Regions from separate parts of the Homo sapiens genome. Here all the other regions are linked to region 1. The links come from fine-mapping of genetic effects on gene expression. A gene starts in region 1. Each other region holds a variant in brackets. All regions are shown on one strand. Distances are from middle to middle.

Region 1 (10,791 bases):
TTGCTAGGGCCCCTTGCAGGGCTGAGATTCTATGAGTCCTCTGTTCTCAGGAGCAAATTCAACGTTTTCTTTGTTAATATCTTGGATTTTACATTTTTTTACCAAAAGCTTCACTTACCTCTTTTCCCGATTTGCTAATATTCAAAAAGAAGCCCACTAGTAACTATCTCTCTTAGCAATTTCCTGAGCATGTTTAGTTTTTTCAATCAAGTACAGCATAAAATTACGACTTCCTTTTGTTCATTTAATTTTTTTCAGAGTGGAAAAAGCACTAGCAAAATATATCAAGTATAATGAAGTGGTAAATGAAAGAAGTCTTAAAAACCCCAATTTAAACATGGTCATTTTTCAATATTCAAATATTTGCATATCCAGGATCCATTCTGAGTTTAAAAACCTGGCAAGATACTCACTTGAGGGCAAAATGAGACTTAGGTTAACTGACTTGTTCAAAGTCATAAAGCAAGTTAATAGCAAAGCCCAAATCTTTGGACTAAGATGCCCGGAAGTCTTTCTACCATAGATTGTTATCTTCCTAAACAACCTGTCTTTCTAGATTCTCTGCTACTATTTCTTGGTTTAGAAACATACACTTCACATACTGAAGACTTTACTGCAACAGGACTGTGGCCAGAACTGTACTTGTCTCATTAGGCTTACCTTGCTAAGGTAAGAAAGTGATCTCACTCAAAGGCATTGCATCTCCACTGACCTTGAATAGGAAATACATATTCATATCTTGCCAAGAGTTCAAGTGCCAAGTCAATACATACTACGAAGTCTATGGTTTGGAGGAGACTATGAAATGATGACATTTCCCATGCATTCCAAATGTATTAGGATGTATGACTGAATTAAGTGGGACATGCACCTGGAGCCTTCTCACCTTCACAGTTGACAGCCATGAATGAACTGGCCATTTGTCTCTGGAAATCTGCTTCCGAGGAGGAAAGCAAATGATTTTTTAAAATGCAAAACAGGAAGGAACTAAAGGCAGCATGGCATGAGCCTCATTTTTTCCCCAACAGGTCAACACTGAGACATCACCCCTCCACTTCTACTTGAGACTTTGTTACTTTCCATGGCTATCAGGGTGTGTGTGTTTAAATATTTCTACATTTGGTAAGCAGGATCTGTTACCCCCTTTTCTCAAATATGCCCTAATGAGACATAGGAAACATGCTGTCACTCTCCCAAAATGAAACACACATGAAGACTGTATAACTTTTCCTCTAATTAAGAGTAAGCTTTACCCATGTATTACTAGCAATTTTTCTATCACTGTAATCTCAAGTTACAATGTCTAGAAGACAGATGAAGACCTGCTGGCCAGACTATGACAGTATTCTTTACAGATATTCTTCATTTCTATCATTATTTTATTACTTATTTTATTATTTTTTAGCGATGGGGTCTATGTTGCCCAGGCTGGACTCAAACTCCGGGGCTTAAGGGATCCTCCCACCTCATTCTTTTAAGACAAGGTACAGGCGGGACAAATGCAAAGTGTTTAAAGGAAACAGATCTACAGGCAAAACGGTAACTGACTTTGTACATTTCAAGGGTGCTGGGCTAATGGTGAAAATGCAAAGGAAAAGGCCTAAAACATGGCCATGTCTGCTTAGGACTGGGAACAGAAGGTTTCCTGCTGGGCTTTTAAGAGCTCTCTATGGCTGGGCATGGTGGCTCATGCCCATAATCACAGCACTTTGGGAGGCCAAGGCAGGCAGATCTCTTGAGGCCAGGAGTTCGAGACCAGCCTGACCAACATGGCCAAACCCAGTCTCTACCAAAAATACAAAAATTAGCCGGGAGTGGTGGCACACACTTGTAATCCCAGCTACTCGGGAGGCTGAGGCACAAGAATTGCTTGAACCCAGGAGGCGGAGGTTGCGGTGAGCAGAGATTGTGCCACCGCACTCCAGCCTAGACAACAGAGCAAGACTCTGTCTCCAAAAAAGCTCTCTGCAACATCAGCACCACAGACTCAGCATTGCCCTGAAGCTCTTTTGTAACTGGCTTTTATTGGTTTAATTAACCAAGGATGGGTGGGACAGAGTTACTCCATCTCTGTCATGTTATTGTTGCCGGCTTGTGGCTAGCAGCAGCTCTTTACCTTTTGTATTTGATACCTGGCCTGCACAATTAGCACCTTATTATAGGCTGGCCTCTCTTCTAATTGCCACGTCTCAATTGAGCACTTTATTTTATTGTCTTGTTCATGCAGTAGTTCGAGGTCCTGGGCTCCCCCACTATAATAAATTCTAAACTACTTTTAGGCAGGTGTTGTGTTTTGAGTTTATCTCTTTATGCCCATAAGAACACCAGGGACTCACAGGCATGCAAACACACTGTCTGGAGTTTCTAGATATCTGAGTATGGCATACGGTTGGAATCTGGGTCTCCATGCATGCTACTCAACCCTAGTACCAGATCTATCAGCCATCTTTGCCATTGAGGGCTCTCTCCTTAGCTACTTGGAGTTAAGCTCTTATTCTGCTCATATATAACCTTTTACCTTGTTTAAAATATTGGGTTGCAACAGACACAGCAACATCCCATCAGCACCACATTCCATGTTCCTCTAGAAAAATGATTCAAGGGATATGAGTTTATGCTTGAACAGACTTCTTGCTTTTGGAATTAAGATTAACTATATAGTTCATAGGACAGTTACCAACGCCATAACAAAATTGGGATTTCCTTCACCAAATAATCTGGTGAATGTAATAAAACCTGGGGGGAGGCTGTGTAAGGTGATGGTTAGGAGTATGGGCAGGAGAGCTAGACTGCCTGGTCTCAAGTCCTGGTTCTGCCATTTACCAATGATGTAACCTGTGACCCTGGTTAAGGCATTTAACCTCTCTGTGCCTCATTTCCCAATCTGTAAAATAGGGATAAGAATACTTGCATCACAGGGCTGTTGCAAGGATTGAATCAGTTATTTTTTATTTTTATTTTTTTTTGAGATGGAGTTTCGCTCTTGTTGCCCAGGCTGGAGTGCAATGGCGTGATCTCAGCTCACTAAAACCTCCGCCTCCTGGGTTCAAGCGATTCTCCTGCCTCAGCCTCCCGAGTAGCTGGGATTGCAGGCATGCGCCACCATGCCCGGCTGATTTTGTATTTTTAGTAAAGATGGGGTTTCTCCATGTTGGTCAGGCTGGTCTCAAACTCCCAACCTCAGGTGATCCACCGGCCTCGGCCTCCCAAAGTGCTGGGATTACAGATGTCAGCCACCGCACCTAGCCTGGTTAATCTTTATAAAGTGCTTAGAACAATGCTTGGCATACAATAAGCACTATGTAAATTAGTGTTGAAAATTAGAGTATAAGGTTTTAGAATACACAAACCTACAGAATAGTATGCCCCAATTCATTTATTCATTCAATAAATGAATCTAATAGTGATGGAAAAACAAGACGGTTTAATACTGTGCCATCCTTGACTTCTTGATTTTTTTGGTTATCATATGTTCTTTGAATTACTTCAATACACTAAAAAAGAACTCAGAATTTATGGATTTTAAAGACGTCCAATGCACTATTACAGCAAAGGTGATAAAAATGTTCTGGCAGCATTTAAGCCGAATGATTAGTGAAGACTGTCATTGTTTTAGTAGACAATTTAAAAAGGAACATTCTACTGTTTACATCTCTCTTACCTACTTAGCCTAATATATAAGACATCGTTCATAACATTATTTAGCAAATACTGCAGACCCTTGTCCAGTATGGAATTCCCGTCAATTGTGAGGGGGGGACAGTTCAAATACATGTTCTATATTTTAAGACATTGGAAAATCTTTATATAAAGATAACTCCATGGTATCTGAACTCAGGCTTTTCTTCCTGTGTCTTTCTGATCTGTCCATTTGCTGTCACCTCTTAAATCCTCAGTCTCCTCAGATATCCTAGCTTCTAAAATCCCACTTCCAGGGTCTCTCCTTTCTGAGCAATCTCTAGCACATCTAGAAAATATCATTTATAACATCAGCAATCTCATGTTATCTTATCACAACAGAGCTCCTCACATAAAACCCAGCCGTCCAACCACACACAAACACATCTAAGTGCCACAACAGGTGGGGCACCTGTGCCTTCATTAGGGAGGAAATCCTTCCGGCTTCACCTCTTTCAGTTTCCCTGGAAGGCAAAGTCCAACCCTGCAAGCTGTCTTCCTTTTAGGTGCCCCTGTGGAGAATTACGTAGAGACATAAGAAACATCTAATGTCCAGTCTACGAAGAACTGATCATCAATTTTGGAGCTCAGCAGTTTAATGCTTAAGAATGTGAGCAAGCACTTCCTCTCTATAACCTTATCAGACGACCTCCCAATCCCACTGTGCCCACTGATGCGACCATCATAGCTCTAACCACCATGATCTGTGGTTATGTTGGCCCTGGAGCCTTCATCTGCCCAGGGAACTTCTCTGGGCATAGTATGTTTTACTTGTCTTGTGTTCTAAAGGTAGCACAAAGCCTATCTATAGTAGGCTCCCAATAGTTATCTGAAACTGTATTTGAACCCACTATCTGATAAATACCATTTTTTTTTTTTTTTGGCTGAGGGTCCTCAAAAATGGAACATCAGGAAAGTCATCAGAATTGCTTTAACCTGCCCTCCTTGCTTCAACTAATTTGGGTTAACTTTCTCCCATTTATCCACACGGCTCCTTTAAAACTTGCACCATACTTTGTCAGCCCCGCCTTAATGAGTTCCTTTGGTGACCCCAGCTTCACCTTGCAGATATCCTCTCCGGGTATCCAATGCCCATACTCCCACTCGGCCATCGCAAGGGGTTGGGGTTGGCTTTTTTTCGGGCAACTGCTCACAGCTCCCAGTAATCACTTCCATCAAGCCGGGGTTTCCAGTTCCCGCTAGGAAGCGTTGGGGACGTCCGGGCACTGCGCACCTCGCCAGTGCCGGTTACCAAGCGCCTCCTCCCCCGTCTGTGGGACAACGCTCTGGTAAGCACCCGAGGCAAGAGGTCCCAGCAAGGTAATGGGACAGCGTTCGGTCACAGAGAGTGAGCGAGCCAGCGAGAGATATTCCTGGGTGGAGGGGTGGGGACGCCTTAGGACTAGTGTCCCCCATTCCCGGACCCTTCCCACCAAGAACTACCTAGGGAGGGCTGCATCGCCTCTCCAGCCATCCTAGGGACTAGAGAAATGGAGGGGAGAAGAGCAGGGAAACAGCACCCCCGGGCCAATCACGACGTCCGCCCCTCCTTAGTCGGGGTCTCTCTCTCTCTCTCTCTCTCTCTCACACACACACACACACACACACACACACACACGCTCCTAAGTCAACTCCAGCTCTGAGCAACTACGCCGCACGCCTCTCCCACTGGGAGTCCCCCGGCCCGTGAGGCTCGCCTCACCCCAGCTTCTTCACCCCTACCCCAGTTTCCCTTCCCAACTGACCGTGAAGCCGGAGGCAGTTCCCCAGTCCCAGACCCCGGTGGGGCTCCCGCCGCCGCCGCCGCTGCCTTCCCCTGCAGTCCCCAACCCGGGACCCGGCCTCGGGCTTCGGCGATGGCTCCTCGGAACGAGGCGCCGCGGCTCTCTGGACTCGGCCAGACACCGGGCGGCGCGCAGGAGAAGCCCATCGAGCTCTCCCGGCAGTGGCGGCGGCCGCGGCTGCAGGAGCGGCCGCCGCGCAGGTTGATGACGCGCTGACGCGGGGCGGGGGGGGGTGGGACGTGGGGGCGCGGTCCAGAGGAGGGGACGCGCGCAGATGACGTGCGGCTCGTGGGGCAGCTCGGCAGCATGGCGTCCGTGACGCTGAGCGAGGCGGAGAAGGTGTACATCGTGCATGGCGTCCAGGTAGCTACAGCAGCGGCGTTGGGTCGGCCGCCGGGTTCAGCCTGGCCCTGCGGGTCGCGGCCTGCCCTGGGTTTGCCAGTGAGGAGGCAGCCGAGCTGCGGCGACTCTCCGTTTACCTTGTGATTAAACGGTTCTGCTGCCGGCGTTTGCAATTCAGAGCTGGCAACGTGGACGTTTTTAGGACTGTTAGCGCATTTGCAGTTTTGCGGGTCTATAAGATTCCGAACCCGGGCAGGAAGCTTGGGCAGTCTCGGAGGCCTTTTCTTAGTGAGAGAGCATCGGCCCCAGGGCCATCCATTCGGCGTTCGCGCACAGATCTTGTCCGAGCCTCAGTTTTCTCTTCGAGGAAATGGGAGTTTGGAGGTGGGCTTCTGGCCTGCTTTTCCTCACCTCGTGGTTAGGAGGGCGCATGCGAGGTGAACGCACTTTGAAAATACAAATTGCCGTACAAATAAAGGGGGAAGGGTTTTTAAAAAGCGGCTAGGACGCCTGTAATCCCAGCACTTTGGGAGGCCGAGGCGGGCGGATCACGAGGTCAAGAGACCGTCCTGACCAACATGGTGAAACCCCGTCTCTGCTAAAAATACAAAAAAATTTAGCTGGGCGTGGTGGCGCACGCCTGTAGTCCCAGCTACTCGGGAGACTGAGGCAGGAGAATCGCTTGAACCCGGGAGGCGGAGGTTGCAGTGAGCCGAGTCTCAAAAAAAAAGCGGCTAGGCAGCCGATAGCCTAAGTGCTGTTTCCATTTTGCCAATGAAGAACTAAGATCCCTAGGCAGCTATAACCTAATGTCCTCTGTGTTCTATATTAAATCCCTGGTTATGACCACTCCAGAACGAGGGTTGAAAAATGTTGGACCTGGTAACGAGCTACCCTGTATCCTCCTCCGGCTGTGTCTCCACTTGTTAACCTACGGTGTGGTCCTCCTATCAGAGTTCTTCATCCCATCCTTGGCAGAGTTCTGGCGACAGCTCCTACCTCTTTTCCTCATGCCTTTCCTCTGTCAGTACCAACTGCAAAGTCAGTGGTCCCGTGATGTAGCCATCGGATTGAAGCGGCCAGCTATCATTGAAGTCCCACAACGTGAGTTAAGGACATGTCCATTTAAAAATCGTGACCTGCCGTTATCTTCTGGGCCCTTTATATATGAAGAAATGCCAATATTTAGCATATTATGCCTGGATAATAAAGTCAGAACTCACAGTTGCATATTTTAGTTATAATTCAGGATTAACAACAGTGGGACATATGTGTGTATTACAGGGTAACATGTATGTTATTTGTGTGTGAGGGGGCATAAAAATGCCCAAAAGCAGTTAGATATGTCTTTCCCTGCTATATTTTTGTATACACTTTGTTCAGGTGATTTTTATCCTCAAAGTATTTTTTTAGGGACACATTACGGATAACCGTTTTCCTCTAAATTTAAAAACCTTTGGTCTTCTTTGTTACCGGAGCTTACCATGATGTAGTGACTCTGTCATGTGTCCTATTTTCTCTCAACATTTCATCCCTGAAAGTGGCACTGAGGCATGGATATATCTGTAACCTCAAGGTTAGAGCTTTCTCCCCAGCACCCTTAATTCCCACGGCAGTTCATTAGCTATCCAGCAGCAGAGTCCCACCATGGTCATTAGTTAATTTTATTTACCAACATATATCTAGCTCCTGGCATGTTATGTGGGAAACAGCAGGGATGCCAAAACATGGTTGTGAAATAAATGAAAGATAGGAGGGAGACAAACAGAGAGTAAAAGTGAATAAAATAAAAACAAAGGTAATGTAAGATCTATGCCAAGGAAGTGGTATAGTTAGTGGAGGTTGAAGTTAAAGTATACCAGGGGCCGGGCATTGTGGCTCACGCCTGTAATCCCAGCACTTTGAAAGGCTGAGATGGGAGGATTGCTTGAGCCTAGGAGTTTGAGACCAGCTTGGGCAACACAGTGAGAGCCCATCTCTAAAGAAATAATTTTTTTTTAATAAATAAAAAGAATTCCAGGGACTTGTAATGCTCTGAAGGCTTCCCTAAGGAGGTGGAATTGCTCCCCTAAATCCATGTCAAGGATTCCTCCTCTGTATCTTCAGGACTCAGTATTCATTCATTCAACACAGAACTGAGCTAGACTCAGGGGCTAGGAAGGAACCTGTCCTTATATAGCTCTCATGCTAGAAGGAAGATGCAGAAACTATAAATGTACTTGAGTGTTTATATATAAAATTGTACTGAATGCTATGAAGGAAAAAACGGACACGATCTAGACTGGGAGGTCAGAGGAGGCTTCCCTAAGGAAATAGCATTTGAACTGAGTTCTCAGCATGACTGAGAATTAAGTAGGCACCAGTGTTCCAGAAGGAAGGGGTGGTGAGTCTGTAAATCCTCAGGTGGAGGACATGTGGAGCCCAAGGGGTGGGCTGGGGGAAATGGTGGAAGATCAGCTTGCAGAGGTGGCCAGAAGCACGATCCTAGAGGTCTTAGAGGTTCAGTCATTCGCTCATCATGGATCTTGGAAGGCAATAGCCTGTTGACTTGTCTGTATGGGGGACCCTTAAGGCATAGCCAGTGTCTAGCACTTGGTAGGTTCTTAGTAGCATTGAATGGGTGATGTAAGCTTTAAAGGGGGAATGAGTTGGATGGTGTTTTTATTTTTTAAATTAAACCTCCCTCTCACCAGTACCATGGACATATTTGGGCACAGTTGTTGGTAAATGCTCAGCTCTGTGTATCACAGAGCCATGCAGAGTAATGGGCTTCAAATCAACGTCTTCATAAGGGCTTATTAATGTTGGCCCAAAATATGCCATATGTATAGAGGAGCAAAACACAATTTACACCATCCAAATAAAGGTCAGGATGCAGGTGAATGAGCCTACCATGGAATCTCAACTGATTCAGTTCTGAAATCTCCTAAACTTTTGTTGCGTTGGTTATAGAGTGCCGGCAGTGCACCTTAAGCAGTGCCTGCCTGAACTCCTGTTGCTTGTATAGTCCTAGTCATTTTGTGTTTTACTTTTCACCTTTGGTCCAGTAACGTCCATTTCAGCTTCTGATGTCACTTTCCCTTCAGCCTTTGGTTCTTTTACTATTTCAGGGAATATTTCATCTTGTTTTGGTGATAGTTAGAAGCAGTTGAAATTAACCTCACGATGTGTTGAGGATTCAGTTGCTAGTAATGGTAACCAACACATCGGCTCAAGCAAAACAGTATGGATTACAAGGCTGCAAGTGTTTCTCCAGGAATCCTAATCTCTGCTGGTTTTTTTTTTCCCCCTCTTTGCTTTGTTTTTGTCTCCCTACAGATTGGTTTTCTATTTCTTGGGCCAGTGGTAGAAAAAATGTGGTTCCTTCCCAGTTCCTCTGTAAAAGAGACCATTCCTTCTCGTTCAGTTCTGAACTCATGTTTCCAAGAGAAAGAAACTCTAGTTCTTTTAGGGGGTTGAGGGAAAGGATGGACAGAATAATTAGGCTCAAACATGGCCACTAGAGGATGTGTCACACTTGGGAGAAGTCAGTTTGTGAGAAGGGAGGGTGGATCATTTTAGTTATTGGCAGAAAATGGAACCCTCTTCAGGTAGTTCAGGAGACTTTTATGATGGGACTCTAGAGCAGTATGGGGGGGGTTTCAGGGAACCAATAAGAGATGTTGAGGAGCCCCAAGACAACTACTGGGAGTGGCTACTGCCCCTATTCCAAAGGGGCCAGGGGAGGAAACAGTATTACCACATTTCAGTGATAGCTGGAACTGTGGAGGAAGGGCTGCCCAACATAAGTCATAGTCTTCGATAGATGCAGGCACTATCAGAAATGTGGCCACTAGATTGGGGGTGAGGGGCACCCTCTGATCTGGTATCTTCCACTGGACAAACCCAACCAGAAGCCAGCAAAGGGAGTCTAGGTGATACAATTTGAGTCAACCTGGTGAACAGATCCCCTCTCCCAGGGGAGAACAGAGAATCAAAAAGGTGGATTAAATCGGTATTTTGATAAATAATTTGATTGGTTTCTGTTAGGTTCTCTTTCAGTCTTTGAAGGCTATATCCCATTCTTATTAGGTACATATTATAATTTTTATTTCATTGAATATTTACAACAGTTCTGAAGGTAAATGTTATCTCTATAGATGAGGAACTGAGCTCGGGCAGGTTGAGTCGCTTGTCAAGGTGACACAGTAATTGAGTGGTGGCACTGGGATTTAAATCCAGACCTGTCTGATTGCAAAGCCCATACTTGACTCTGAGGCCACCTTCCTGCTGCAGTGAAAGTCATTTCTTCCATTTCCTCAGTAGGGATCCAGAGATCAAGGCAGGAGAGAATCTTTGCTTCCTCTACCTCCTTTTCTTTCCCCCTTTCTCTAAAAGCTTGTGGGGAAACTGGAAGGGAAAGAGAAAGTTCTAATTGACACCTCCCACTCCCCAGTTTTTCTAGAGCTTAAATAGTATATGGCATATACTGCTGTATTGTTTTGGTTGCATTTTTCCCACATTGAGTATAAGTTCCTTTAGAACCCTATATTGCATTTCTTTGTATAGCTTTTGTCTTACTAGTATCATAAACGATTTACTCTGCCCATACCATGCAGAACTTGGAGCAGACTTCAGAATTTTTAGAATCTAGGATTTATCCTCTTTTCTGGCTTACTGGGCTAGATGTGTGTTTTCCTCATCCATGAGAAGCCATTGCTAACCTCCCTCTTAGCCCAGGGATTCTGAAGCCTTGAAGTGCATTTTACTCACCTACAAAATACAGATTCTGAGGCTTTACCCCAACATTCTGAATCAGACTCTCTGGGGCTGGGGCCTGAGAATGGACATTATCATAAAGTGTTGGGAAATTTGGGGGCAGCCACCAGACATTGGCCCATGGGTAAGCCACTGACCAGAGATAAAGAAATCTCTGCTCTCTCCTGCTGAAGTCATATGGTTTCCTGCCTCTTTTTGAATGAGGCTTTGGAGTCAGACTGAGCAGGCA
Region 2 (10,791 bases), 53 kb after region 1:
TCTGGAAAACCTCCTGATGGACCCACCTTAGGCTGTTTCACAGTTAACTTTTTTAAAAAAAAAGTAGAAAGAGTACACTCTAAAATAATGATAAAAAGTATAGCACAGTAAATACATAAACCAGTGACACGGTCATTTATTATCATCGTATTAGTTCATTCTCGCACTGCTATAAAGAACTGCCCAAGAATGGGTAATTTAGAAAGGAAAGAGGTTTAATTGACTCACAGTTCTGCATGGCTGGGGAGGCCTCAGGAAACTAATAATCATGGTGGAAGGCAAAGGAGAAGCAGACACCTTCTTCACATGGCAGCAGGACAGAGTGAGTACAAGCAGGGGAAATGCCAGATGCTTATAAAACCATCAGATCTCATGAGACTCACTATCACGAGAACAGCATGGGAGAAACTTGCCCCCATGGTTCAATGACCTCCACCTGGTCTTTCCCATGACACATGGGGATTATGAGGATTACAATTCAAGGTGAGATTTTGGGTGGGGACACAGCCAAGCCATATCATTCCACCCCGGCCCCTCCCAAATCTCATGCTCTCACATTTCAAAGCACAATCATGTGGGGCAGAATGATATGGTTTGACTATGTTCTCACCCAAATTCTTATCTTGAATTGTAATCCTCATAATGCCCATGTGTCAAGGGAGAGACCAGGTGGAGGTCATTGAACGATGGGGGTGGTTTCCCCCATGCTGTCCTTGTGATAGTGAGTTCTCATGAGATCTTATGGTTTTATAAGTGTTTGGCAGTTCCTCCTGCATTCATTGTACCTCCTGCCTCCTTGCGAAGAAGGTGTTTGTTTCCCCTTCACCTTCTGCCACAATTGTAAATTTCCTGAGGCCTCCCCAGCCGTGTGGAACTGTAAATCAATTAAACCTCTTTCCTTTCTAAATTACCCAGTCTTGGGCAGTTCTTTAGAGTAGTGTGAAAACGGACTAACAAAATCAAGTATTATGTGCTAACATGACCTTATATGCTCTACTTCGATATGACTGGCAGTAAATTTGTTTACACCAGCATCACCACAAACTTGGGAATAATGAGTTGCACTATGACTTTACAACCCTTTGTGACATCACTAGGTGTTAGGAATTTTTCTGCCCCATTATAATCTTATGGAAGCATATCACATATGTGGCCTGTTGTTGACTGAACTGTCATGATGCAGCATGTGACAACACATCACTGCCGTGTGCTCCTCAGACCCCATCAGATTTCTCTGGTTGTCCCAACTGCATCCTTGAGAATGGAGGGTCCAGTCCAGAATCACATATTGCATTTAGTTCTGTGTCTTCAGTCTCCTTCAGCCTGAAACACTTCCTCAGCCAGGAGCTTTGAAAATTACTGGCAGTCATTTTGCAGAATGCTCCTCCATTTGGGATTGTCTGATGTCTCTCTGGCCGGAGTCCTATGGAGTGATGCCACATTCTCACTGCAGCCCCCCAGGTGCTGCAAGCTTTTTATTGGCCCTGTTGATGTTTACTTTGGTCACAGATGAGGTGATGTCTGCCAGCCTTCTTCACCATGAAGTTGCTCTTTTTCTCTCTGGAATGGATAAGTGTTTTGTGGGCAGATACTTTGAGGCTATGTAAACATCCCATTGAAGAACATCAGACTTTCAATGCGTTCCCTTACTTACTTATATCTGTGTGCACTGGTGGTTTCCCATCTGTTACTGTCACTATGTTGGTGCTCAAATTGTCCCTGATTCTGACCACTGAAGGCTCCTTCAAGCTGGCTCTGTGTCCTACTGACGTGTTCCCATTATTCATTAAGCACTTCCTTGTTTTCTGGCAAAACAACAAGTTCCGGGCTCATTTTCTGCACCCCACTCCTACTTCCCAGTGCTAGAATCAGCCGTTTCTGCAAGGTGCTCTGGTTCCTTTAGTGGAAAGTCATATTCAGAAGCCAGTATTCAGGTGCTAGGAGTGCTCCAGGCTATGCGGGGCTGGCTGCTCCAGGCCCCCCAGTGACTGTGGGGACTAGACACACACACATTTCCATCTATATATATGGACTTATCTTTATGTATTCAAGGCCACAAGGGTACACTGATCATTCCGATTTTAATCCCACACAACAGGATTCATTCCAGTTTTCTCTCCATATACATAACTTCCTTCTCTGACAATAGGAAACCTAACTCCCACTGTCTTCAGTAGATTTATTTGATCAGTATCCCTGTGTGTAACCAATCTCCCGTCTCTGCCACCAGCCTCTCTCCCACATGGATCCCCTCCTTGCCTCACTTGGACTCCAGCACTCCAGGCAGGGCCTTTGCTTTCCCCAGGATGCTCCCTCCACCCTGCTGGGCTCCCACACCCCACACCAGTCCACCCCTTGAGGGCACATTCTCCCCACATCCTCTCTGGTACCTCTGGGGCACGATGGCTTCTCCCTCCGCCACCTTTGCTATGCCCCACTTTGTGGCTTTAGGACAGGACTCAGGAGAAAGGGAAGACAAGAAGGGAAGGAATCCCTTGGATTTTTTAACCAAAAAATGCATCAAGTACATGGAGACAGAGCCACAAAATAATCATAACAAATATTCTAAACCAATCAGACAGCCAGCCCCAGATCACCCTATAAGGGGGCATTGCTACCCCGTGACAGCTGGGTAGCCTGGGCAAATTCCCTAACCTCACCGAGCCTCAATTTCCTCAATGGTAAAATGGGGAAAGGACAGTGCTTCCCTCGTGGTTTGGGTGTGAAGCTTCTGTGAGTTAATGTTAGTGAACAGCCAGCCTCAGCCCCTACCCAAGGTAGCTGCTCCGCAGATGTGATGACAACCACCGTGTGTTTCTCAGAATCCTAGGAAATAAGGGCTTCTTTCTAGAAGGCAGGGCCAGGATGCTGCGTGGGTGTTCCCTGGCAGAGAGGCTCTGTGGCCCTCAGGACTTCATCCTTCTGCAGGCTTGTGTGTTTGTTTTATTTTTTTGGCACGCCTGCAGCCAAGTTGGGGAGGGTTTCCTGGACAGAGGTCCTTTGGCTGCTGCCTTAAGACGTGCAGCCTGGGCCGTGGCTGTCACTGCGTTCGGACCCAGACCCGCTGCAGGCAGCAGCAGCCCCCGCCCGCGCAGCAGCATGGAGCTCTGGGGGGCCTACCTCCTCCTCTGCCTCTTCTCCCTCCTGACCCAGGTCACCACCGAGCCACCAACCCAGAAGCCCAAGAAGATTGTAAATGCCAAGAAAGGTAAGGAGGGGGACAGAGCCCTGTGCCATCTTCCAGGGAGCAGGTCCCCCTCTCCTTAGTGTGTCCTCATGCTCCTTTCCTTCATTTTCCTCCTTTTGAGTCATCTAGGGAACTTGAGTAAAGTGGGCTTTGGGGCTTGGGGGAGTTCTCTCATAGCAGAGTTGGTTGTCAGAATCATAAGAATCCCTGACCCTTAGAGTTGGGAAGAACCTTCCAGATCATCCAAACTGATCTTTGCTCTTCTCTCCTCCCCTCATCCCCAATATTTTAAAGAAACCAAACCTTTGGCCTGGGAGTCTGGCAGCGCTCAGCCCTTACCAGGGAGAGCTGCACAGGCTGGGCTTTGGAGTCTTCCAACCTGTTTTCTCAACTGTAAAATGGGGACAGTGGTATTTGTTCAAAGACTTCTCATGAAGATTTTATGATACAAAATATATAAAGGCACCTCACTTGTTGCTTGATGCACAGGGAAAAGAAAAAGAAGAAGAAATGAATTCTCATTTCTGTAGCATATCACAGCCTTCAGGAAATAAATGTAACTCAGACTAGTCCACCAGAAGCAGCTTTGCTCTGCTTTGTAGCCTCTGGGGATTGGGGTGTCCCTCGGTTGCTTTGGCTACAGCAAGACTTGCCCTTGCAGCCCCGCCTGCAGTGAGGTCACCCCAGGCTGTGTTGAGACAACATCAGTGGAATGTCATGGCAATGGACGGGGCTGTCACCCCCCCAGGGAGCAGAGGCTAGAAGAGAGTCCAAGGGGATGAGGGTGGGGACTGAGGCAGAGAAACAAGCAGCTAGGACCAAGGGCACAGAAAAGGAAAGAAGGGGCTGTGGGGGCCTCCCTTAGGCCCTCCCGGGGCTCTTCATAAATGGACAGTTGCCCACTGGCCAGGAACTAGTGCAGTGCATAAAGGGACATCGGGGCCATGGGGCCTCACAACACTGTGACAAAGAATGGGGCAAATCTGGCTGCTGATAAAAAAATCATCTTCAAGATTCAGTTTACAAAGTGAAAAAAGAAACATTCAAAAGAGAATGAGTATGATGCTGACATTTGCTTTGAAAAAGGGATTTATATAATAATACATTTTTACTTGTATGTGCATAAGTTCTTTCTGGAAGGATCCACAAGAGTGAGTAACAGTGATTACCTCTGGGAAGAAAAACCAGGGGCTGGGCGCAGTCTCAACTGGGAAAGAAACCAGCTTTTTGAACTGTTTGGATTTTAAAAAATTATGTGTGTATATTACCTTCCACAAAATGTTCATTTAAAAAGAGAAGACAATACCGTGCATAGTTACGTCTATGAGCATTAGCCAAAATCGCCACCAAGGGAGAGCCTTTGTAAAAGATGCAGCTCCAAAGGCAAATCATAGAATTTTTGAATGTGGAAAACCATCGCCAGCTTCTCAAGTTTACCAAAGATTCAGTATTAATATAATTATGTAAATCTTTTTAAACTCATGTTAAAAAAAAAAGGGTCAGAGCACGTGATGCCTTGGTTCTCTCCAGCTGTCACACTTGAACCCTGGCCCTATGTGGTCTCCATAGAAGGGGCCCCTGGAGTTCCAGGGCTACAGGCCAACAGAACAGCCACCCAGGCCCTGCCTCTCGCTGAAACCCATGGCAGTCTCCCGCCCACCAACATGGCAGGCACTTATAGAGCTCTTTCTCCACGTAGGCACCAGTCTATATGCTGGACACACAGCAGAGAAACACCGTCTCTGCTCTTAAGACATGAACCATGGTGGTTCTCACTCAGGCATCAACATCATCTGGGAGATACATTAGAATCCAGGTGCCTTGGCCAGGCGTGGTGGCTCAAGCCTGTAATCTCAGCACTTTAGGAGGCCAAGGTGGGAGGATCGCTTGAGGCCAGGAGTTCAAGACAAGTCTGGCCAACATGGTGAAACCCTGTCTCTACTAAAAATACAAAAATTAGCTGAGTGTGATGGTGTACACGTGTAGTCCCAGCTACTCAGGAGGCTGAGGCAGGAGAATTGCTTGAACCTGGGAGGTGGAGGTTGCAATGGGCCGAGATTGCACCACTGCACTCCAGCCTGGGTGACAGAGTAAGTGAGACTCCGTCTCAAAAATAAATCAATAAATAAAATAAAAGTTAAGAATTCAGGTGCTTGGGCCCCACCCCTGGAAATGCTGGTTTAGGGATCTTGGTGAGTTTAGCATCTGCCTTTTCCACAGGTCTTCAGGGATTCCTAGGAGCAGCCAGGAATGAGAATCTCAGGGGCAATCTAGTTGCAGGGCTGGTGCCCAAAAGTACGGGAGAAAGTCCAAAGAAGGGACGGTCATGCCAGAGGAGACCAGTTGGTGCCAGGGCCAAGAGGGGGAGAGCAAGTGGCAGGACTGGCAAAGGAAGGGAATGCCAGCATATGCTAAGTCCTTGTCCTGGCCCTCAGGGTGGGTGAGAAGCGGGGAGCCTAGAGTACTTCTGGGAGCTCATCTGTTC[T/G]TGGGGCCACATGGTCACACCTGGCAGGGAAGCTCCGGAGGGAAGGATGGCCTCATAGGAGTCACAGGCCTTTAGAACAGGGAACTGGGGGAACCTGGAGGGCATCCATTCTAACATCACGCAGAAGGAACCTGAGGCTCAGAGAGTGGGCCAGCACAAAGGCCTCCTGACTCTGCCCAGGGCCGTAGAGACACCTACTCCCACAGCTTCCTCAGGTGGAGCTAATGAGAGTAGCTTCCTGTACCTTGGACAGTCCCTGGAGGAAACTTTGCACATATGGGCACCTTGGTGCAAATTACAAAAGGTACCTCCTCTAAACTGACAAATTATAGAAAGGCATCTCTTTTTCTGGTCTGACCCACTCTAGCCAGGGCAAGGCTTAGGAGACAAATGGGCCTTCATGTGTCCCTCAGCAGAATGCCCTTCTTCAGTGCCCCCTTGCACAGCCTCACATGGCACCCTATGCTGGTACATCACGTGACTGGGTACAGTGCTGCTATAACTGGTGGAGGCAGTCTCTGTGTGAGGCACACATGACCTCAGGCTGGTTTGCCAGCCCCAAACTCTCCCTTTTTTTGCCTTGCTCATCAGGGTGTTTTTGCTCCAGTTTGGTAAGTTACATCGCTAATTTCTATATACACAACCATGTGTCTTGCCTGTGATTCTTCTGCAAAGGCACCTTATGGGTGGACGAAGGCTCTGATCTCACTCTTTGTGAGTGTGGAATGTATGCAGACACAGCCAAATGGACCATTAAAGTGTTTCCCCACCCACTTCCCCAAGCTGAGTGCAGCCTTTCCTGAAGCCCTGGTGTTTCAGAAAGACCAGGGTCCGCCCCAGGAGCTCTAAACTTACACACACATAGAAATATGCTTCCCGGCACCCTCAACTTACACACACATAGAAATATGCTTCCCCGCCTTCCCCTGCTGACTCTTACATGACTGGCTGCCAGCAGGACAGCTCCTGTTAGGAATCCGTTTGTGTGCCATGGGGAAGGTGGGGAAGAGCATGGCTTCAGAGCCATGTGCACCTGGGTTCCAGGCCAGCCCTGCCAGCTGGGGCTCTGCCATCCTCGGCCAGTTGGTTTAGGGCAGCCTGGGTTTCCTCATGGTGAAATGCTGGTGGTACAGAATGACACGTTACCTGTGTCATAGGGTTGATTATGAGCATCACATGGGGTGACATGTAGAACGGCTTAGCCCAGAGCCTGGCCTCCTCTGTAAGAGTGGAAAACCTGGGTTCCTTCTGCCCTCATCTTATTAGTAGCTGTGATGGGCACACACTCAGCCAAGCACTGAGGTAGGCAGCTCTGCGTTTCAGTTCTCTTAGTCTTCTCCAGAGTCCTAGGAGGTGGGGCTGTCATCATCCACTTCATACATGAGGGAACCAAATCCAGAGAGGCTGAGCAGCTCGCCCAGGCCACCCGTGTCTGTGGCACCTCCAAGCCCTGCATATGCGTGCCCCAGGCTGGAGTGCCTGCTGGTCTGTGTCGCATTCCTCCAGCCTGGGGAAGTGAACCTGGGGGCTTCTTGAGGGCTCCTGCTGTGCTTCCTGTGCTGTTCTTCCCTGGAGCTGAAAAGGTAGCTGGGTGGTGGGGGATCACTGAAGCCTGTGCCTACACCCTCACCCCTGCCTCTGCTAATCCCAGCCCCATCTGATCCCCAGCAACAATCCCAAACAAATGCAGCACAGGAGCAAGTGAAGGATGGGCCCCCTGGCAGAAGTCACAAGTGGTTAATTAGACTACCACCAGCAAGGATAGAGAGAGAGAAAGTTTCCCAAGATATCAAGGTTGAGGGGAGTCTTTTCCTCTCATCCCTCTGCAGCTAAGGTAGGATCCTTCCTGCTCAGTCCCTGCCCCACCCTGACATATTTCCTCCTGCTTCAGATGTTGTGAACACAAAGATGTTTGAGGAGCTCAAGAGCCGTCTGGACACCCTGGCCCAGGAGGTGGCCCTGCTGAAGGAGCAGCAGGCCCTGCAGACGGGTGAGTGCAGGCAGTAGCCTCTCTGGGCAGGAGCGTCTGAGAGAAGGGCCCAGGCCAGCAGCCAGCAATGCTCTTCTCGCCTCCGTTCAGCATCAGGGTCCTGGCTCCATTAGTCCAGGCCTATGGGTGAAGGCACCAGGTTCAGGGAGCCCCACCTCTTTCTCTTGGGGAGATCCCCTGACACGTGTCTGCAAAACTCACCTGGATGTGTACGGCCAAATCTCTGGCCACAGCTGGGTGGTGTGGAAGTGGGGATGTCCCAAGAGGACAAAAAATTCTCCAACAAGAATCCACTACTGCCCACCAGAAGTGACCCTGGAGCGCTCGATGGGGCAGAGGTAGTGGCCCACCCTAGCAAAGCTCCCAGGAGCCCCTCACTCAGCTGGCCTCTGCAGCCCCAGAGAGCTCCACACTCCTGTGTGTCAGCAGCTTTGCTGACCCTGTCTCTCTTAATCGTAACTCTGCTGAGGTGGGATTTGTCAGCTCCATTTTAAAGATGAGCTGTCAGCTCCATGAAATGTCAGCTCCATTTTAAAGATGTGTCAGCAGCAACTGAGGCATAGACAGGTCCTGAACCTGGCTCATACTCACCTCGTTGGTTAGTTGACTCGTGGAAGAGCAAGAGTTGAATGGAGGCAGGCTGCCCAGTGCCAAGCTGGGCCTTGGTGTTCCTGGCTCTGCACTAGCCAGCTGAGGGAGGGTGCACAGAATCACCAAGAACAGGGCCCAGGCGCATGGTAAGGTCATGCCCTCTGGCCAGCATACCTGGCAGCCTATTGTTTCTCACTCCCCATGTTCCTGTCATATAGTCTGCATTTTCCACATACCTCCGATTTACCTACCTTTATATGACCTCACCTTCCATTCTATGGAGAACACAGACTCACAATACTGATGACTATTTACATGTGAGCCCACTACATTCTGGCACTGTTCTTGATGCTTGATGCAGACTCACAATACTGATGACTATTTACATGTGAGCCCACTACATTCTGGCACTGTTCTTGATGCTTGATGCACGTTAACTCATTCACAGCACACCCGTGCAGTGGTCCTGTTACTACATCCTCACCCTTATTTTCCACCGAGAAGGACCTTGTGACAGCCGAAAGGAGCAGAGCCTCACTTAGCTCTGCTATGCTGCCCCTCGAGTTATCAGCTGGGAAATCACCTTGACTCCTCAGCAAATCTATAAACCACCCTGTGTCCACAGCCACTCTCTTACCTGTTGCTTTTGTGACCAAGGCCCATCCATCTGCAAGGCCTTCCCTTCCCCGCCTGCCTCCTCAGAAACCCCCAACAGCCTTCTCACCGGATGGTTTTACACACTCCCTCCCATTCATATGCTTTCCTTCAGCATTCACACTGCCATCCTTCTGCACTCCCACCACAGGGCCTTTGCATGTGCTGTTTGGGCAACCTGAATTGCTCCCCCAAGATCCACCTAATAAATGCCTCCAGCATTATCTTCTCAGGAGTCACTAATCCCTCATCTCAATCAGCTCCTCAGTTATAAGCTCTCCCAGAACAGTGTCCTTTCTTTTATCACACTGACTGCAGTCTGTAATGATACACTCATTTCCTGATTTGTGTCTGCTGCCTCCACTAGACTATAGTAAGCCCTGAGAACACAAGGGCCATGTTTGCTTTTCATTGCCCTTGTCTCTTCCACTACCCTGCCCAGCATAGTGCCTGCCACATAGCAACACTCAGTCAATCTCTGTTGAAGGAAGGACAAACATGTAACTTTGGACAGCTTGCTTGGCATGGCAGGTAGGAAGAGAGTGCTCGAGAAAGGGAGCATCTCCAGAGGTGTTTTTGACTTCATGTAATAGGAAACCTATCAGTGGCTTAAACAAAAAGTAAGTCTGCAAGTAGGTAGTTATAAGTTTTTGTTCAGAAGTTTCACCTCATGGTCTTCAGATGGCTGCCCCAACTCCAGGCATCATGAGTGCATTCAAGGCAAGAAGGAGGAAGAGTAGCCCAACCACATCTGTCTCATTTATAGGGAACGTAGTCTTCCACTTCCATCTCATTGACAAGAAATCTATCATATGGCCACCTGCAGCTTTAAGAACATCTGAGAATGCAAGAATGTAGCTTTTCCAGCCTCTATAGTGGAGGTGGACAAGAGAGAAGGGATTTGGAGGCAACAGTGCCTGGCACAGCGGGTATGTTTAGAATGAGCCCAGTGCCACTCTGAGCCTCAGTTTCCTCATCTGTAAGGTAGGCAGGGTAAACTCTAAGGTCTCTCTCATGTCTAAGCTCTGTGCTGTGCAAAGTCAATGTAACCCAGGCATCAACTGCCACCTGGGGTGAGGTAATGAGGTGGGGACCTCCCTGAAAAAAGTTCATGACATATGGAGGCCCAAAGCATGACATATGAAAGCCCCCATGTCTGCTGATTTCTAGGAAGCTGCTGGGCTTCTTGGGGCCTTCTCCTGTTCATTGTCCTCACAACCCAAAGATCACCTTTTCAATAAACCCACCCAAAGCATTGCAGAGCTCTGTTGACCTAACCAGAGTTGAAGGAATCAGGGGGCAACCTTTCCCTCCTCCAACCAGCATACACATGGGAGGTTCCCACCTGGTACATCTCTGCCAGGCACAAGGAGGCAGAGGTGATGCAGCCAGGGCCCTGCTCCCTGGGAACCTCAATATATTCATGGAATCACTTGAGCCCTTGAAAGCTGTGTAGGAATCAGAGAAGATAAAGAGGGTTGATTCCAAGCAGATGGCAGGGCAGGAGCAGAGGTGTGGAGGACTAGCATAAATCGACAGGATCATGAATAGACCAGAGCAACAAAATGTTGGCAGCAATGATAGTATCACGAGAAGTAGCATTGACTGAGGACTACCTATGTGTTGGAGGGAGGTTCAGGTGAGGGTCCTAGGAAGCAACTCTGAGATGGAGTTTAACCCACAGGAGACTTATCAGGAGATACCCTCAGGATCAACCCCTGTGCTAGGGAAGGGATGGAAGGAAGCAGGAGTGGGCAGAAGGAGAAGTCGAGCTGTACTGTGGTGCCACGAAAGCCTCAGCTGACTTCAGGAGCCCTGATGACGGGATGACCCTTCGGCACTGTCCTGAGTCGGGGCAAGAGGGCTTATGGGTCAGTCTTGGGT
Region 3 (5,000 bases), 69 kb before region 1:
GGACCAGGATTCAGCCCAAGTCAGACATAATGGGGATGCTTATCTCAGCTGGTTATGGGTTACCAACTTCTGGGTAAGACAGTGGCCCCTTGTAGCTGGAAGGACCTTGCCGGGGGACAAGGGTGTCTTTGTACAGCTGGGGAAGCAGAGGCATGGGGTTGGTCTGAGGTTACTTGGAAAATCTGTGGAATCAAGTTATCTTTATTTTAAATAGTGAGTCCTAGTACTAAAGACAAAGTCAGCCCAGTAAAGGGAAAATAGATTAGCTCAATAATTCTCAAATTTTAAAAAATTATTTGTTTATTTATTTTGAGACAGAATCTCACTGTTGCCCAGGCTGGAGTGCAGTGGTGTAATCTCGGTTCACTGCAACCTCTGCCTCCCAGGTTCAAGCAATTTTCCTGTCTCAGTCTCCTGAGTAGCTGGGACTACAGGTGCACACCACCATGCCTGGCTAATTTTTACATTTTTAGTAGAGACAGGACTTTGCCATATTGGTCAGGCTGGTCTCAAACTCCTGACCTCACGTGCTCCACCTCCCTTGGCCTCCCAAAGTGTTGGGATTACAGGCATGAGCCACTGTGCCTGGCCTTTATTTATTTATTTATTTAGAGATGGAGTTTCACTCTTGTTACCCAGGCTGGAGTGCAATGGTGCAATCTTGGCTCACTGCAACCTCTGCCTCCCAGGTTAAAGTGATTCTCCTGCCTCAGCCTCCCGAGTAGCTGGGATTACAGGCGCCTGCCACCATGCCTGACTAATTTTTTGTATTTTTAGTAGAGACAGGGTTTCACCCTGCTGGCCAGGCTTGTCTCAACCACCTGACCTCAGGTGATCTGCTTGTCTCGGCCTCCCAAAGTGCCGGGATTACAGGTGTGAACCACCGCACCCAGCCTCAAACTTTTTTTTTTTTGAAAAAAGCAGTCCAACTGCTCAGAAGGAAACTTCGTGTGCCACCTCATAATGTAAAGCAGAACTACTCCAGCTGAAGTGTGCCCAGGGACCAGCCGGCCCCTCCCTGACATCTCTGCCTCACTCCTGCAGCCCCTGAAGTAGATGTCTCTCAAGGTTCTTCTAGGAATAAGTCTTAGTTTGGCTGTGAGCCTCATCCCAAGGATAGCAAATTCATCTGCCCACAGGGCCAGAGAGTGAACAGGGCTGTCTACTTGGGAAGATGGGGACCTAGAGACATGAGCATGCAGATCCCCAAAGGCATTCAGGTTACAATTTAAACATACTTTGCGGGCTCCACCCATCAGTGTGAGACTCCTGATTCCTCCAGCTGCAATGTGAGCCCACATGGCCCTGAAGGCAAAAAAATGCTGTTAAAAGTGAAAACAGCCTCCACATTTCTCCAAAGATAAGGCATTGCCCTTATAATAGGGGGTGAGGGTGGTGGGAGGTGGCCCCCAGAGGTGGGAGGAGCAGGTGATATGCCCACACCCCCGCATACTCTGCAGGAAGATTCTCAGCAGGGCAGTATTGAGGGCTCTTTCCATCCAGGGAGTCTAAGTAGCATTTGCTGAGGTGGGACAGTAGCCATAGCAACCAGGCAGTGAGTAGCGCAGTGCCACTATCTGCCTGAGAGGCAGAGGAAGCCCTGTTCCCTGGCCAGAAAAGGGGCCTTAAAAGCCCACCTAACCTGCTCACCTTATAGATAAGGCCAGAGAGGGAGGGTGGGGATGCCCAGGTTCAGTCAACAAGTTAGGAGAAGAACCAGTATTAGATTAGGAGACCAGTTCTCCTGAGTCCTAGTCCTCCAATACACTGAATTCACAGGTTTGGCTGCCTTAAAGAGGCAAGGGAGAGGAGCCTGTGTGTTGAGGATTAAATAAAAATAGTGGAAGCAGAAAGCCCAATGCCCAGAATACAAGGGTATGTAAAAACCAAAGCTACTACTGAGGAACTATCAGTCAAGAGACTAATTCTCATTAAGTTGTCAATGACTAATAAGGGAACTCTCTATCCCCATGCTAGAAATAAAAAGACAGCTCTTAACAAAAATGAAAAATAAATAAATAAATAAATAGACAGCTCTTAGAATGGAAATGTTCTTATTAGCCCAGATCCATAGCAACAGCTTGCATTTGTTTTAGGCACAGGGCTAAGTACTTTGCCTGGATTATTTAATTTAATCTTCGCAATAGCCTTAGAAGGTAAGTGCTGTTTTTATTCCCAGTTTTCTAGGAAATGGAGCCACAGAGAGCTGAAATGCCTTGCACAAGGTCACATAGCTCCAAGGTGTGATGCCAGGAATCAGACCCAGATTGTGTGTCTCTGTGCTCTACTGGGGACTGATGTGCTGGGATGAGTTTAATAGGCAGCATGACTTCCTATTACTGGGACAGAGGATTCCTGACACTCTTCAAGTCAAAGCTGAGATGTGCCCCTCTTTTCAGAATAGTTAAGGATGGCCTAGGAAATGAGTACCCAGATGCTTCTTGGGCAAAATTTGCTTGCCAGTCCTGTTTGAGTTTGGGAATCATTGCTGCCACTGGGTCCAGGCTGGGTGGGCTGGGGAACCCCACTGAGAGTGACCACCCCTGGCTTCCCCTCAGGTGTCTTCTGCTGTGGGCCATCACCACTGACCGCCATCCGCAAAGGTGACATCTTTATTGTCTATGACACCAGATTCGTCTTCTCAGAAGTGAATGGTGACAGGCTCATCTGGTTGGTGAAGATGGTGAATGGGCAGGAGGAGTTACACGTAATTTCAATGGAGACCACAAGCATCGGGAAAAACATCAGCACCAAGGCAGTGGGCCAAGACAGGCGGAGAGATATCACCTATGAGTACAAGTATCCAGAAGGTGCTAGCATCACAGGGCTCCTTCTGACTCAGCCCCTGAGTCACCCAGAACATGAAAATAGTCAAGATTGGGGGTGGGCCTGGGCAACATGGTGAAACCCCATCCCTAC[CAAAA/C]AAAAAAAAAAAAAAAAAAATTAGCTGGGTGTGGTGGCATGTGCCTGTGGTCCCAGCTACTCAGGAGGCTAAGGTGGGAGGACTGCTTGAGCCAGGGAGGTTGAGGTTGCTGTGAGCTATGACCATGCCACTGCACTCCAGCCTGGGTGACAGAGCAAGACCCTGTCTCATACAAACAAAAAGACAAATCCTAATTGAGGCCTTTGCATTGTTTGACCAGCTCATTCACCTTGCTAAGACTGTCCGTTCTCCCCAGTGCCCAGTAAATTAGACATCTTCTCAGCCTGGCTTTCTGGCCCCTGCAGAGCTGGCCTCTGGCTCCCTTCCTGAGCTTAAGTTCATCCCCTAGCCATGCTGCCTGCTGTTACCTGAAAATGCTGGCTACTTTCACCCCTGGCCAAACCTCTGCTTATGCTTTCCCTAACTGAACTGTCTCCTTTGCAATCTCTACTATCCACAGGCTCATACGCTGCCTCTGTTCTTGATGTTCCTCAATCTGACAGATTTGTATTTCCCCTGTGGCCCATTGGCTGTGGTTCCTGTACCACGTGGTAAGGAAAGGAAGACAACTCCATATAGCATCCTCAAAGGGTGCAAGAGTCCAGACAGGGGCAAACTGAAGATGGGATGTGATTAAGAGGAAGGCAGGAAATCGTAAGGACTCATAGACGAGGGAGCAATTTGCTATGCTATGGGATGGCAGATGGTACCCATGCAGCTGGGGCTTTTCCCACCCTCCATTGCAGTATAGTTACAAGCAGGTCAGTTTGGACCCCTGGGTTGATTGTGAGCTTGTGTAAAACCTTGTACAAGGTAGGCCTGCAGTAAATATTTCTTCCATATAAATGAGGCAAGTGATTGATGGCTACCAAGGCAGCTCAGGACAAACTGGAGCTCTCCACTTTGAAGTCTCTTTGTGTTCAGAATGGACGTGGATGGAGAGCTTTGTAACCAAGCTCAGAAATTCCTGTCTTACAGCTGCTATCTCTGAAATAGAATCTTATCCTCAGGGTTGTGTTGAAAATGAGCAAACTTGATTAAAAGCAATTAGGTCAGGAGTGTTTTTTTTTGTTTTTGTTTTTTTTGTTTTTTGTTTTTTGTTTTTTTTGCAGGGTGACAGAAGTATCAGGGAGGGAGGGAAAGGATAGAGAGGGAGACCAGTGGTGTCTGTCAACTGCTACACTTGATGGTGTCCCTCAGGTCTCTGAGGCTCTGTTCACTCTTCCTCATTGTTTTTCCTTTCTGTCTCTCAGACTAGATAATCTTATGACCTGTCTTCAAGTTTGCTGATTTTCCTGCAAGCTCTAATCTGCTATTATTGTACTTTTCAACTCCAGAATTTATATTTGGTTCTTTTTTAAAAATAATTTTAATCTCTCTCGATATTCTCTATTTGGCAAGCCATTTGTTCTCACACTTTTTTTTTAGTTTTTTGAATATATTCAAAATAGCTAATTTAAAGTCTTTGTCTAGTAGGTTCAATGTCAGGGCTTCCTTAGGGACAGTTTTTATTGACTGTTTCCATGTTCCTACCCTGCCACCCCCACACCACCATGTATGGCCTATAGTTTGTTTGCATGTCTTGTAATTTTTTGTTAAAAATTGGACATTTTAAAGAACATAATATGGCAACTCTGGAAATCAGATCCTGTCCCCCATCCCAGGGTTGCTTTTGTGGTTGCTATTTGTTTAACAACTTCTCTGATATAATTCCAGAAATTCTATAATCTTTCTTGTCCATGACCACTGAATTCTCTGCTCAGTTTGCTGAATGGTCAGCTAATGATTAGATGGATATTGCTTTAAATTCCTTGAATCATTAAGACTCCTAGCCTTTGGCAAGGGGCTCTGTGTACAAGTTAGGGTACATTTCAATGCTCTGGCAGGCAATTTACAATTCTGCCTTCACTTCTTGCTTGAGCCTCAAGGTCAGTTAGAGGTGAGAGCCTTATCAGATCTTTCTCAGACCTTCTAGATTTCCAGGAATCTGTCTGAGCTTTTCAAAGCCCCCGTGGACATTTTGTCCCTCAGCTTTTCCTTTTAAGCTTTTTGGTCGGCTTCTTTTCCCCTCAACTCC

What was found. PIP is the estimated chance that this variant, and not a neighbour inherited with it, causes the effect. A credible set is the group of variants that fine-mapping cannot tell apart.
Region 2: its variant is the best candidate, but not a certain one, in a credible set for the expression of EXOSC7 in whole blood (TOPMed, PIP 0.80).
Region 3: its variant is the best candidate, but not a certain one, in a credible set for the expression of EXOSC7 in monocytes after triphosphate RNA (Kim-Hellmuth 2017, PIP 0.83).

The regions. Positions count from the first base shown.
Region 1 is chr3:44,970,510-44,981,300 of GRCh38, forward strand. EXOSC7 (exosome component 7) reads left to right here and starts at 5,735. Exons shown (of 8, transcript NM_015004.4): 1 at 5,735-5,825. The coding sequence starts at 5,769. It overlaps ZDHHC3 (zDHHC palmitoyltransferase 3), which reads right to left and starts at 5,665. Exons shown (of 7, transcript NM_001135179.2): 1 at 5,424-5,665. RefSeq lists an enhancer at 4,645-5,189 and silencers at 5,412-5,511, 5,632-5,701.
Region 2 is chr3:45,023,264-45,034,054 of GRCh38, forward strand. CLEC3B (C-type lectin domain family 3 member B) reads left to right here and starts at 3,040. Exons shown (of 3, transcript NM_003278.3): 1 at 3,040-3,208; 2 at 7,564-7,662. The coding sequence starts at 3,100. RefSeq lists enhancers at 3,420-3,921, 3,922-4,421. The variant T/G (reference allele first, on the strand shown) is at 5,673.
Region 3 is chr3:44,904,391-44,909,390 of GRCh38, forward strand. It overlaps TGM4 (transglutaminase 4), which reads left to right. Exons shown (of 14, transcript NM_003241.4): 10 at 2,559-2,810. Among named protein-coding and RNA genes, the nearest start is that of TGM4, 32 kb to the left of the region's middle. The variant CAAAA/C (reference allele first, on the strand shown) is at 2,920.